Linked DNA regions of Homo sapiens: region 2 is linked to region 1. The links come from fine-mapping of genetic effects on gene expression. A gene starts in region 1. The other region holds a variant in brackets. All regions are shown on one strand. Distances are between the middles of the regions. Region 1 holds the start of LRFN2 (leucine rich repeat and fibronectin type III domain containing 2). Region 2 overlaps LRFN2 (leucine rich repeat and fibronectin type III domain containing 2).

The links. PIP is the estimated chance that this variant, and not a neighbour inherited with it, causes the effect.
Region 2: its variant is fine-mapped to the expression of LRFN2 in whole blood (INTERVAL, PIP above 0.99).

Annotation. Positions count from the first base shown.
Region 1 is chr6:40,584,449-40,589,818 of GRCh38, forward strand. LRFN2 (leucine rich repeat and fibronectin type III domain containing 2) reads right to left here and starts at 2,916. Exons shown (of 3, transcript NM_020737.3): 1 at 2,493-2,916. RefSeq lists silencers at 3,089-3,188, 3,279-3,348.
Region 2 is chr6:40,400,195-40,405,564 of GRCh38, forward strand. The region is part of intron 2 of LRFN2 (leucine rich repeat and fibronectin type III domain containing 2); the gene reads right to left. Among named protein-coding and RNA genes, the nearest start is that of TDRG1, 25 kb to the left of the region's middle. The variant T/C (reference allele first, on the strand shown) is at 3,266.

The sequences.
Region 1 (5,370 bases):
ACCCTAAAACTCCACCCCTACCCAAAGGAAAATCACAAAATACTCAAATTGTTGTTGCTCTTGTTCAGAGTCCAATTCCACTTGGCCATCCCAGGTTGTTTATTGCTATATGTCTCTGCTTCCAGTCTAGCAGCCTCCCCCATCAGACTGTGAACTCCCTAGATGCTAATATCTACCTTAGGAAAGGGGAGTTTCTGAAAACAATTAATTCCAATTTCACTTCTCCACTGTCCCTGGGTAGACAGACCCCACGCCAGGAGCTTATAAGCCTCTATACATCCACCCTGCAAAAAAGGAGAGCAGAACCTGCTCAACCCCACAGGCTGAAGAGGCTTGGCAAACTGGCACTTGGAGGCCAGAATCCCTGTTTTTTTTTTTTCCTTTGGAGCTGAAGCAAAGATAAGAAGAGCAATTCCTCCTTCAGTCAAAGAAGGACTCAGTTGGCCAGAAGGCTGCCTGGTTTCCCCGGTGGCCCCACCCACTCTGACTGCATTTTCTTCCCATCTATCTTGCTTCTCCTCCTCAGCCTCACCTCCTGGAAGCTCCCAGCTCACCCTCTCTCAGGCCAGACTCCCCAGCTTCTCACGTTTCTGGGCCTGAGCAAAGAACTGGCACTTCACAGAAGAAGGAGCCCTGAACCCCAGCCTCCAGCCCACAGCAGGCAGGCACCCAGTTCTTCTAGACAGGAGATGGAACTGGGAGCCAACCTTCCAGAGGCTGAAACAGAAATGCCAAGTTTGCTGTTTGCATCCCCAGGATGAGGGCAGGAAGATAAATAATTACATTCCTGGTCAGGAATTAGACCAGAAACTCTAAATTGAGGGCTGGGCAGGGGGCCTGAGCAGAAGCATGTGAGGAGGCCAGAGGGAGATGCAACTCTGCACTCCCAGCCAGAGTCAGAAGGGAAAGATGACATTCCAGCATCAGCAGAAGGGCCCAGGCAGCTGGCATGGTCGGCGGAGGATGACGGCTCCAAGTGCAGGCCTTTTGGAGCTTCTGAATCCTCCCTACAGGACTCTGACCCCCTTCAGCCTCTGATGTACCCCACAAGGAAATGACACTACCCTCAGGGCTCTGCTGTGTGTGGCTATATAAAGCTCCTGCCAGAGGGCAGCGACCAGACCAGGGCACAACCCCAAGACCTAGTTCCCTTGCTCCCCACCTTGAGTTCCAAATCGGCCCCCACACAAGAATAACAGCCCACATAGAACCTCTAGCCCTGGCCCCTGGGAACTTCACAGCCCAGGGAATGGCAGTTTCCTCCCTAGCTTTGCTCCTCCCCAGCAGCAGGGGGTCAAATTCCTGAAGCTTCCCCCTCCCCCAGTACTAGAAGGCCAATCAGGCCATGGAGGCCACAGCTGCCACCTCCCTGAAACATACACATGCGTACACACACACACGCGTACACACACACACACACACACACACTCCATTGTGGCCAGGGGAGGGGGTCATCATCTATAGCCATGCCTGTAACTCCAACTCAAGAGTGCAGGCTCTGACATGTTCCCTGTCCCTGCAGGTGTCTGTCCGTCTGCAGCTGTCTGCTGTCGCCGGGTGCATTTGGCAACAGTCTGGCTCAGTCCCTCTGCGGTCTCCACTCAGGCTCTCTTCTCCCTCCTGCTCTGGTTTTCAGAGGCTCTATCTCCCTAGAACTCTCTGTCTCTGTCCTTTGTACCGGGCTGATGGGAAGACGAGTAGGACACCTCCCTCAGAAGGTCTGTGCAAAGTAAGGCACTGTCCACCTCGGAACGGTCTACTGCTCTCCCTCCTCCCTGCCCAGGCCAACCTTAGAACCAGGGCAGGGCTGGGTGGGAGACAGAGACCTAGGAACCCAGGCATGGCTAATGCCACTTTCCATATTGCTTCATCATGCCATTCTGATGCCCCAAGCTGCACACACACACAATCCCCCTGATCTGCTTTCTGCCTGAGGCCAGCATAGGGTCCCTGAACCTGCCCTACCTGCCCCCACAAACTGCAACCATGCCTTCCTTCCTCCCATCCGCTCTGCATCAACCCTTCCGCACTTGGCTTTACCCCACCCCACCCAGTCCACAGAGCTCAGGGAGTCCCCGGCGCCCCCACCTAGCCCCCAGCAATGGCTCTAGCCAGGCCTTGCATGTGCGGAGATGCAACAGAGTGGTCTGGCGGCAAAGTTCTCCTGCTGTTTTCAACGGTTCCATCCACCCGTGGCTCCCCGTCTCTCCATCCGGCTCTCCAGTCTCACATGGACCCGGCTCTCCCCGCTCCCCGCCAGAGTTTCACCCCCACTGTAGGAAATAAAGACTAAAGAAAGGAAAGGAAATCTCTCGCGATAAGGATGGGCGAAAAGAGAAGGGGGTGTCCGCATGAGCACCTAGGATGCGGGGAGTCTTCAAGAGAAAAAGAAAGGGATGCAAAGTTCCCGGTTCCCTCGGGTGCGTTCAGCCCCGCGCCGAGCTCCCGCGGACACCCGGGATCGCAAAGACGCAGCGCCGGCGACCACTCACCTGGGCGAGGCAGCATCTACCCCCGGCTGGGTGGCACCGAGGCCGGCTCCGCGGGGCGCCCGGGCTCCCCGGCTCGGCCACGCATCCTTCCCCGCCCGAGACAGACTCGAGCTAAACCCTCCGGCGGCTCCGGCGAATGCAGGCAGATGGTGGCCTCGGACGTCCACGCGGGGAAAGCCCTGAGCCGCTTATTCAGTTATATCCATGGCATTTAGCAAGAAGAAGGGGGGAAAAGCACAACTTGTTCTCTTCTCTTCCAGATTAAAGAAAAATAATAATAATAATCCCTCCCTAGGAGGATGCCGGTAGGATTTTCCGGATCGAAGAACCCCAGGCATTCCCAGGAACCTCGGGCATCTTGGAATGTGGGGTGTCTTCAAGTTCAGACGAGCCTGCCGGGTTGTGTATGTGTGAGTGTATGTGTGTCTCAGCGAGAGGGAGCCAGGCACTCACACCCACACGCACACACAAACACACTCCCCCGTACTCCCCGCATGCACACTGCCCCCCACGCGCGCGCGCATACGCGCGTACCCGGTTTCTCTCTCCGCTCCACACACACACACACACACACACGCACACACACACACACACGGATCACACGCTCCAATCTGGGAGGGAGTCGGGCGGGCTGCGGAGACAGCGCAGGGCCAGCAGTGGAGAAAACCCAGCGGCCAGAGGCGCCCAGGAACCCGGCGGCCGTGCGCACCGTCCCCGCCGAGCTCTCCGGCGCGGCAGCCCCCAGTGGCGAACCGCGGAGCTGCAGGAGCCGAAGGCAGCCTCTGCGCCCGCTGCCCTGCCCGCTGCCGAGCGCACCCGCTTCCGAGACGACCAACACCGCCGCGGAAACCAGAGGGATTCACGGTCCTGGCAGGGGTGGCGCGGGGACGCACGGTGGGGCGGGAGTGGGCTGGGGCCGCAGTCGCGGAGGGAGGTGGGCAGGCCGCGAGCCCCGGAACCGGGAGGGCGGTCTCCGCGGTCCAGCGGCACGGGCAGCCCCTGCGGAAGGCGAGCCGGGCGGCCAGGGCTGCACCTCTGCAGCTGGCGACGGCGCTGCCACCTCACGTGCCTAGCGCGCCCTGCAGCCGTCAGCCCGCCGCCTGCTGGAGGAAAACCCGACCGCGCCGGCCCTAGGCTGGGAGTGGGGGCTGGGGCGATCGCGCCCACCCAGTCCTGGGGCCCAGTTCAGATTCTCGAATCCTGGTAAGGGACCTATGAATAACGAGCGCCCCGTGCACGCACACACACGCACTTTGACTTTTCATGATTATTACAAGAATCAGTGAAGGGTGCAGTGGCGCCAAGTGTTTGCACAGCATCTTTACAACTCTTCACTTGTTTGATCTTCTCAGCAACCCTCATTTGATGTATAAGGAAACTGAGGCCCAAAAGAGTAAAGTGACTTGTCCAAGGCATGTGGTAGGTAGCGGAGACCCTACTCAAAGCAGACTGTGAGCTCACAGTCAGAACACCCAGGTCTGGCCAAGGTCTCGTCTTTGGTTATCCTCTCGGTTCACTATAAACAACTAGTTACCAGAAAGGTAGGACCGTCCTCTGCCTTACTGGACTCCCCAAGAGGCATTTCCTTCCTTCTAAAGGAAATGAAATTTTGAGATTCCTGTTGGTACTCCAGCTGGTAAATCCAGGGGCAGGAAGAATGTCAATGTTGCAGTCCTTCTCTTCTCTCCTGGTGGCTAACACATCCCGTGCACCTGTCCCGGTTACCCACAGGGAGGCACATGTTGCATGTGGATGTGTCTCTGCAGCCCAGGATTGGCTCGGCTGGATACATCTGTAACATACGACCCTGTGTCCTCTCTACACACATGCATAACTGCAGAAGCCGAGGCAGCTGGTCCTCATGTGTGCACCCTCCACATGTGCACCCCGGGAAACTGCCAAACTGGCATGCTGCATATCCTTGAAGACAAGCCTCTCCCTGCAGGAATTCTGGAAAGCCTGGTGGGGGAGGGGCATGGCCAAGATGAAACTCAAGGTATATGGGGTGGGCCTTGGAGAGAAGGGATCTAACTCAGGAGCAGGGAGTGAGGGATAGAGGTAGGGAAGAGTCATGAGAAGGAAAGTAATGAGGAAGGAAGAGGTGAGTAAAAGGAGGTGTGGAGTAGAAACTGGGGAGGGCAAGTAGGGAAGAGGAAGGGGAAGGGAAGAAGGAGGGGAGAACAGCAGGGAAACTGCCTTACTCTTTGCTTACCTGAGGGCTTGCCTACTATTGGCGGGAGCTCCCAGGAAGAAAGGCTTAGGAAGAACCACAGCCTGGGCTCAAGCCTTTGAATTCTCCCAAGGGTTGGGGGCAGTGGGCTAGGTTATCTCCCCTAACCCTCAGTCACCCATGAGACAACCAGAACGGAGTGGCAGGGATAGGACCAAGCTGGCACCAGAGTAGAAATGGAGCTGCTTTTAGAAACCAGAAAAGCATTAGAATGATGTGAATGAGGGATATAGGAAGGATGGATCAATCTCTGCTCTAGAGTGAACCCAATACTCCATCAAGAAGTTTTCTCAAGTCAGAAACATGGATATTCCATGAAGAGCCAAGACCTGGGTCATTGGTAATTCTGAGAATTACTGGTTTATTTTTCTAATTACATTTGCCCCAACATAACCTGAGTACTGTGCTGGGGCACAGGTGGCCTGGATGCTCACCATGGCTTTGTATTAACAAGCAATGTGACAAGTCCCTTTTCCTCAAAGGGTTTGGACTGTGCATTTGCTAAGAGCCTTTCCAGCTCTGGGAACCCCCAAGCAACCTTGACAGATGGAGCAGGATGGGGACCACATACATCTTGAGAGGCCAAGAGAACACCAATCTACAGTCACCGTTTACCATGAAAATCCCCAGAAGATAATCCACACTTGG
Region 2 (5,370 bases), 180 kb before region 1:
TGTCTTATTCCTCTTTGTATTTCTACTGCTGATCACGATGTCTGGCCTAGAGTCAATGCTGAGTAAATATTTACCCTACGGTTAGGCAGTGAGTGCAAGAGTGCTTTGCAAAATGTTAGGGCCTAAACATATGTGAGGGATTCTTATCTAATATTCAAGGGTTAGTTAATGGTGACTCTCAGACACTGGCTGGTTCTGAGGACATCTTTCTGGAGAGGTACTTTTCCTTTTTTTTTTTTTTTTTGAGATGGAGTCTTAGTCTGTCACCCAGGCTGGAGTGCAATGGCATGATCTTGGATCACTGCAGCTTCTGCCTCCCAGGCTCAAGCAATTCTCCTGCCTCAGCCTCCTGAGTAGCTGAGATTACAGGCATGCACCACCATACCTGGCTAATTTTTGTATTTTTAGTAGAGATGGGGTTTCACCATGTTGGCCAGGCTGATCTCAAACTCCTGACCTCAAGTGATCCACCCACCTTGGCCTCCTAAAGTGCTGGGATTACAGGCATGAGCCAACACACCCGGCCTGGAGAGGTGTTTTTCTATATCCTTGAGGCTTACTGCAAGGGCTCCTGAAAACCTTTCATGGATGTGCATATACATATGTGTTTGGGGTATGTGATTGTGTGTATGCCTGTGTGTGAGAAGATGTGTGTCTAAGAAGTATCATTTGTCAGCTGAATGTGTGGGTATTTGTGAGTGTGTGCCAGAGTGTAGGTGTTTACATGTATGTGGCAATAAGGGGTCCTGGTCCTAGGCAATGTTAGTCATTGTTCTGCCCCTCTTTCAACCAACCCCCTAACCCCACCTCCCCCAGAGGCTCCCACATCCTCTGAAACTTCTGAGGTGACTTCCTATGTGACCTCTCTCTGTAGGCTGAGGCTCCTCTTTTCTAATGGAACAGAGTTTACCCCCCAGAAAAGGCATTTGGGCCTCAGGAATAGGAATGGGAATGGAGTGGGAGTTTCCACCTGGTCCTCAGCCTCCAGGAAGAGCCTGTGGAATGACTACCAAACCCCACTCTCCCCCTCTCTCATGGCTTCCAGTCTAGGCTACACTCTCCAGGCTCCCTTGCAGCTAGTGTGCCCATGTGACCCTTTCTGGCTAAAGGGATGTGGAGGATGTCATCTGTGCCAGATGATCTGTGCCATCTCTGGGCCAGGTCTTCAGTAGCTCGGGTGCCTTCCCCACACTCCCTTTTCCTTCTGCCAGCTGGACCCTTGGGCAGGATGACAAGGCCTAGAGGGAGGTACGTACTGGGTACCTAAGTCTCCCATAAGGAAGGTCTCCTGATAACCTGGCACACCGCTCTGGACTGTTAGGAAAGTGAGAAATCAAATTTGATTCTGCTTGAGGCTTTACATTATGGCAATTATTTGCAACAGCAGTTGCCTCCCCTGACTAACAGACACCCACAGGTTAGATGAAGTGAGCCTGAAGTATTTGCTATTTAGTAGGTATGTGAGTGAGAGACAGGGTGAATGTGTGTTTGTGTAAGAGGAAGACATTGGTGCTGGTGTCTATACAAGAAATCCTTGCCTTCCTGGAGTTGTCAACAAATACCACCTCTTGTATCTGCATAATTCCTCCAGCCTCCAGCCTCCCCTCTGCCCCACTAGCACCACGCCTTTCTAGGTGCTCTGTCCTCTCCTCCCTCCATCAGTGATGCACCATGGCTGCCTGTTGAGCCTCAGCACTAATTTGGAAGGGCCACATCAGGCTTCCCCTACCCGACCCCTGGCTCTCTGTGTCCTCATTACTGGCTCTTCACAGAACCACTGGCTTGCCACCCTCTCTAGTTAGCCTTGAGATCTCAGACTACATGACATGGCCTCATTAAACCAAGCCAAGCAGCCCTTACTCCCAGATTCTCTCTCTTCCTGCGAGCCCCAAAGGGACCTGTTTGCTTTCATGCATGAGCTGCAAGGGAGTAGAGGAGATGAGTGTTGTTCCATCCTGCATACAATTTATTGAGTACTTACTACGTGCCAGGAACTTGACAGGCAGAGTCTCTTTGATTCTGCATGCTGACTGTATGAGGTAGGAATAATTATCCCCTTATTACAGATGAAGAAACTAAGGCTCAGGCAGATAGAACCCCTGCTCAAGCTCACACAGCTGGAAAGTGGCTGAGCCAGGTCTGCCAGGCCACGGAGCATGATCTTCCCTATGCTGTATTACATTGAATTGAATTGAGCAGAATCAGGATTTAGCAGGAGGCAAGTCTTGGAGTCAGGCCAACTGTTTGCCAGCAATTTAAAAAGAAAAAAATAACATGCCTTACTTTACAATGATAGCTAACATTTATTGAGCACTTACTATGTGTCAAACACTGTTCTGAATATTTTCCATGTATTAGTTAATTTAACCTTGGGAAATCCTGTGAGGGAGGTACTAGTCTTATTATCATTATGGATGAGAAAATCAAGGTTCCAAGACATTAGGTGACTTGACTAAGCTCTCACAGAGAGGAGGATTGTGCTCAGCCAAGATTGAACCCAGCACTTTCACATTTCCTCAATTCATGTTCATGATAACCCCGGGAAGTACATCTAATAATTGTGCTACCTGTTTTAGAGGCAGTGGTTAACTGAACTGCCCTGGGCTCACATAGCTAATTAGAGCCAGAAATGGGACTCCAGTGAATGAGGAGGACAATCTCTCTACTTCGGGACGCATGCTCCTGGGAATTCTGAGGGAAGTGAGGGAACCACGTGGATATCCATGGGCAGAGTTTCCAGGCAGGAAGGAGGTGCCAGTGCAAAGGCCTTGAGGTAGAAACAGTGAGGAGGACGGTGAGGCTGGAACAGAGAGATGGAAAGGGAGAGTAGTAGGAAATGAAGTCACCAAGGTAGTAGATAGGAGCCAGGTTCTTGCAAGTATGTTCACTCTTTGTTCCAACTCTGAGATTGGCTGCTGGGTGCTAATGTTAAGGATTCTGAGGCTGTGTTTAAACTCAGTGGGACAGAGTCCTCTGGAGCCGGTGTCTCATACTTGCTGTTTCTGGCCTAGAGATCAGAGTAGTTAGAATTACCAGAATTACCAGTACAAGTTGTACAGCCTACTGGTGACTAGTGCCAAATGCTGGCCTTCCCTAAGCACCAGGGCCTGAGTGATAATGGGGGAAGCACATGTCTGCTCTTTAGAGTGGGACGATCATGGAGCTGGTGGGATTCAGTGAGGGCTCCAAGGATCAGAAGACTGATCTTCCAGTTGGGGCCAGGGACCAGAGGCCTGGGGTTGGGGGCTGGCCTCTGTCCCTGTTC[T/C]TCTGCCCTTGTGGCTCCTGAGAATATGGAGCTTCCACAAATGCCCTGAGGCACCCCTGCCTTACTGGCAGTTACTTTAGACTCTCAGTGAGTGAAGGGGCCACTTTCCTTTCAATATGATTGAGGCTCTGAGACAAAGCACCCCAATCATTGCCTCAATCCTCAGGTGTACCCGGACATCCACTTCCACAGCCCGCAAGACAGCAGGCAGGGTTGGCATCAGCCCCTGTTGAGTTGGCCTCTGGGTCTGGGTGTCCTTCCTTGCTCCCATCCCCCAGCCTCTTCTCTGCAAGTGGTCAGAGGGATCCTGTTAAAACCCAGGTCACATCCTGTCTTTCTCTGCTCAACCCTGCTCCTGCTCCCAGTGAAGCCCACCTCATGTAGTCAAAGTCCTCACATGGCTCACAGGCCCCAGACAATCTGCCCCTCACCTCTTGGGTTTTGTCTCCTTCTACTCCCCATTCTTACTCTACAATCTGGGCTCCCCACTGCTTCTCAAATCTGCCAAGGGGAATCCTGCCTCAGGACTTTTGCACTGGCTGTTCCCTCTGCCTGGATGCTCTTCCTCCAGATATTTATATGCTAGCTGCTTTGCCTCTTTCAGGTCCCTGTTCCAATATCACGTTCTCAGCGAGGCCATCCCAGATCACGTTATCAACACTGCGGGCTTCCCCAGGCTTGTTACTCCACTCCATTTTTCCCCAATGCATTTTTATTGCCCAACAGACAATATCATTGATTTATTATGATTACTGTTAATTGTCTTTCTCTCTGTCTACTAGAATGTCAGCTCCCTGAGGTCAGAGTTTGTTTGGGTTGTTTTTTTGTTTTTTGTTTTTTGTTTTTTTTTGCCTGTTTTGTTCACTGATAGTTTCCCAACACCTAGAATGATACTTGGCACAGCACAGACCGTTGAAAACATTGGTTGAACTTGCAAATGAAATGAATATTCTACACTGCACTGCCCAATATAGTAGCTGCATGTGGTCATTCAAATTTAACTTCAAATTAATAATAATTGATTAGAATTAAAAATTTAGTTTCTGAGTCATAACAGCCAGATTTCAAGTGCTCAGTAGTCACATGGGGCTAGTGGCTACTGGATTGGACAGTGCCACTGTGTGACATTTCCATCAACACAGGCAGTGCTATTGGATGGTGCTGTTCTAGAACATGCTATGCAGCCCTATCCATGTACCCAGCAAGTGGTATTAACACTGTCATTTTCTATGTGAGCCCTCATGCACCAAACAGGTGGGCCAGTCCAGGTGATGTTGTCCAGCTTTGGGGAGTTCACACAAGGGATGAATTTGTCTTGGAGGCTTTGATCTAGACCTCTGAGCAGTTCCCCATTCTCTCTGAGGCTCTGGACAACTTCATCCCTCCTTTATGACTCTTCCAGTTCTCCATGGTTCCTAAGACCTCTGGGTTCAGCGTGCCCTCTCTGGGATTCTCTCAGGCCTAGCTCAAGCTTATCTGCCCACTGGAGTGTTCTCTCTGCCTCCCATACTCAGCCTGTGCCCCAGCCCCTTCCCAAGGCTTGGCCCCACTGGCAAAGCTGCCTTGCCTTCCCCACAGTCCTCAAATAGGGCCAGCCCTTAGCCAGCCTGTGTCTTTGGGCCCCCTCTGGTCCTTTGTTTCGATATTCTGGTTCCTGCTTTTCTGCCTCTCATGTTCAAGCTACCCAGCTACCCATTACACATCTGACACATTTCTATTGAGAAAAATCCCTCATAGATCCAATAACAATGATAGATGTCATCGGAATACCTGCCATTAGCAAGAGAAGCTGAAGAGGCAGCAGGGTACAGTGGATATGCACACAGGCTCTGGAGTCAGACTGTAGGGTTCCAATCCTGGTTTTGCACATACCAGCTGTAATACCTTATCTTGGGCAAGTTTCTTAATCTCTCTGTGTTTGCTTCCTAGAAATATCCCCTTTCTGTAAAATGGGGCGTTCATAATCTCTGCCTTATAGGGTTGTTATGAGGATTCAAGGAGTCATGATTCATAAAGTACCTAGGTCAGTGCCCGGCACAGAGTAAGCCCCGCATGAGGGTCTGTTACATAAAGGAGTGGGCCATGCTTAACCCATGTAACCCCAA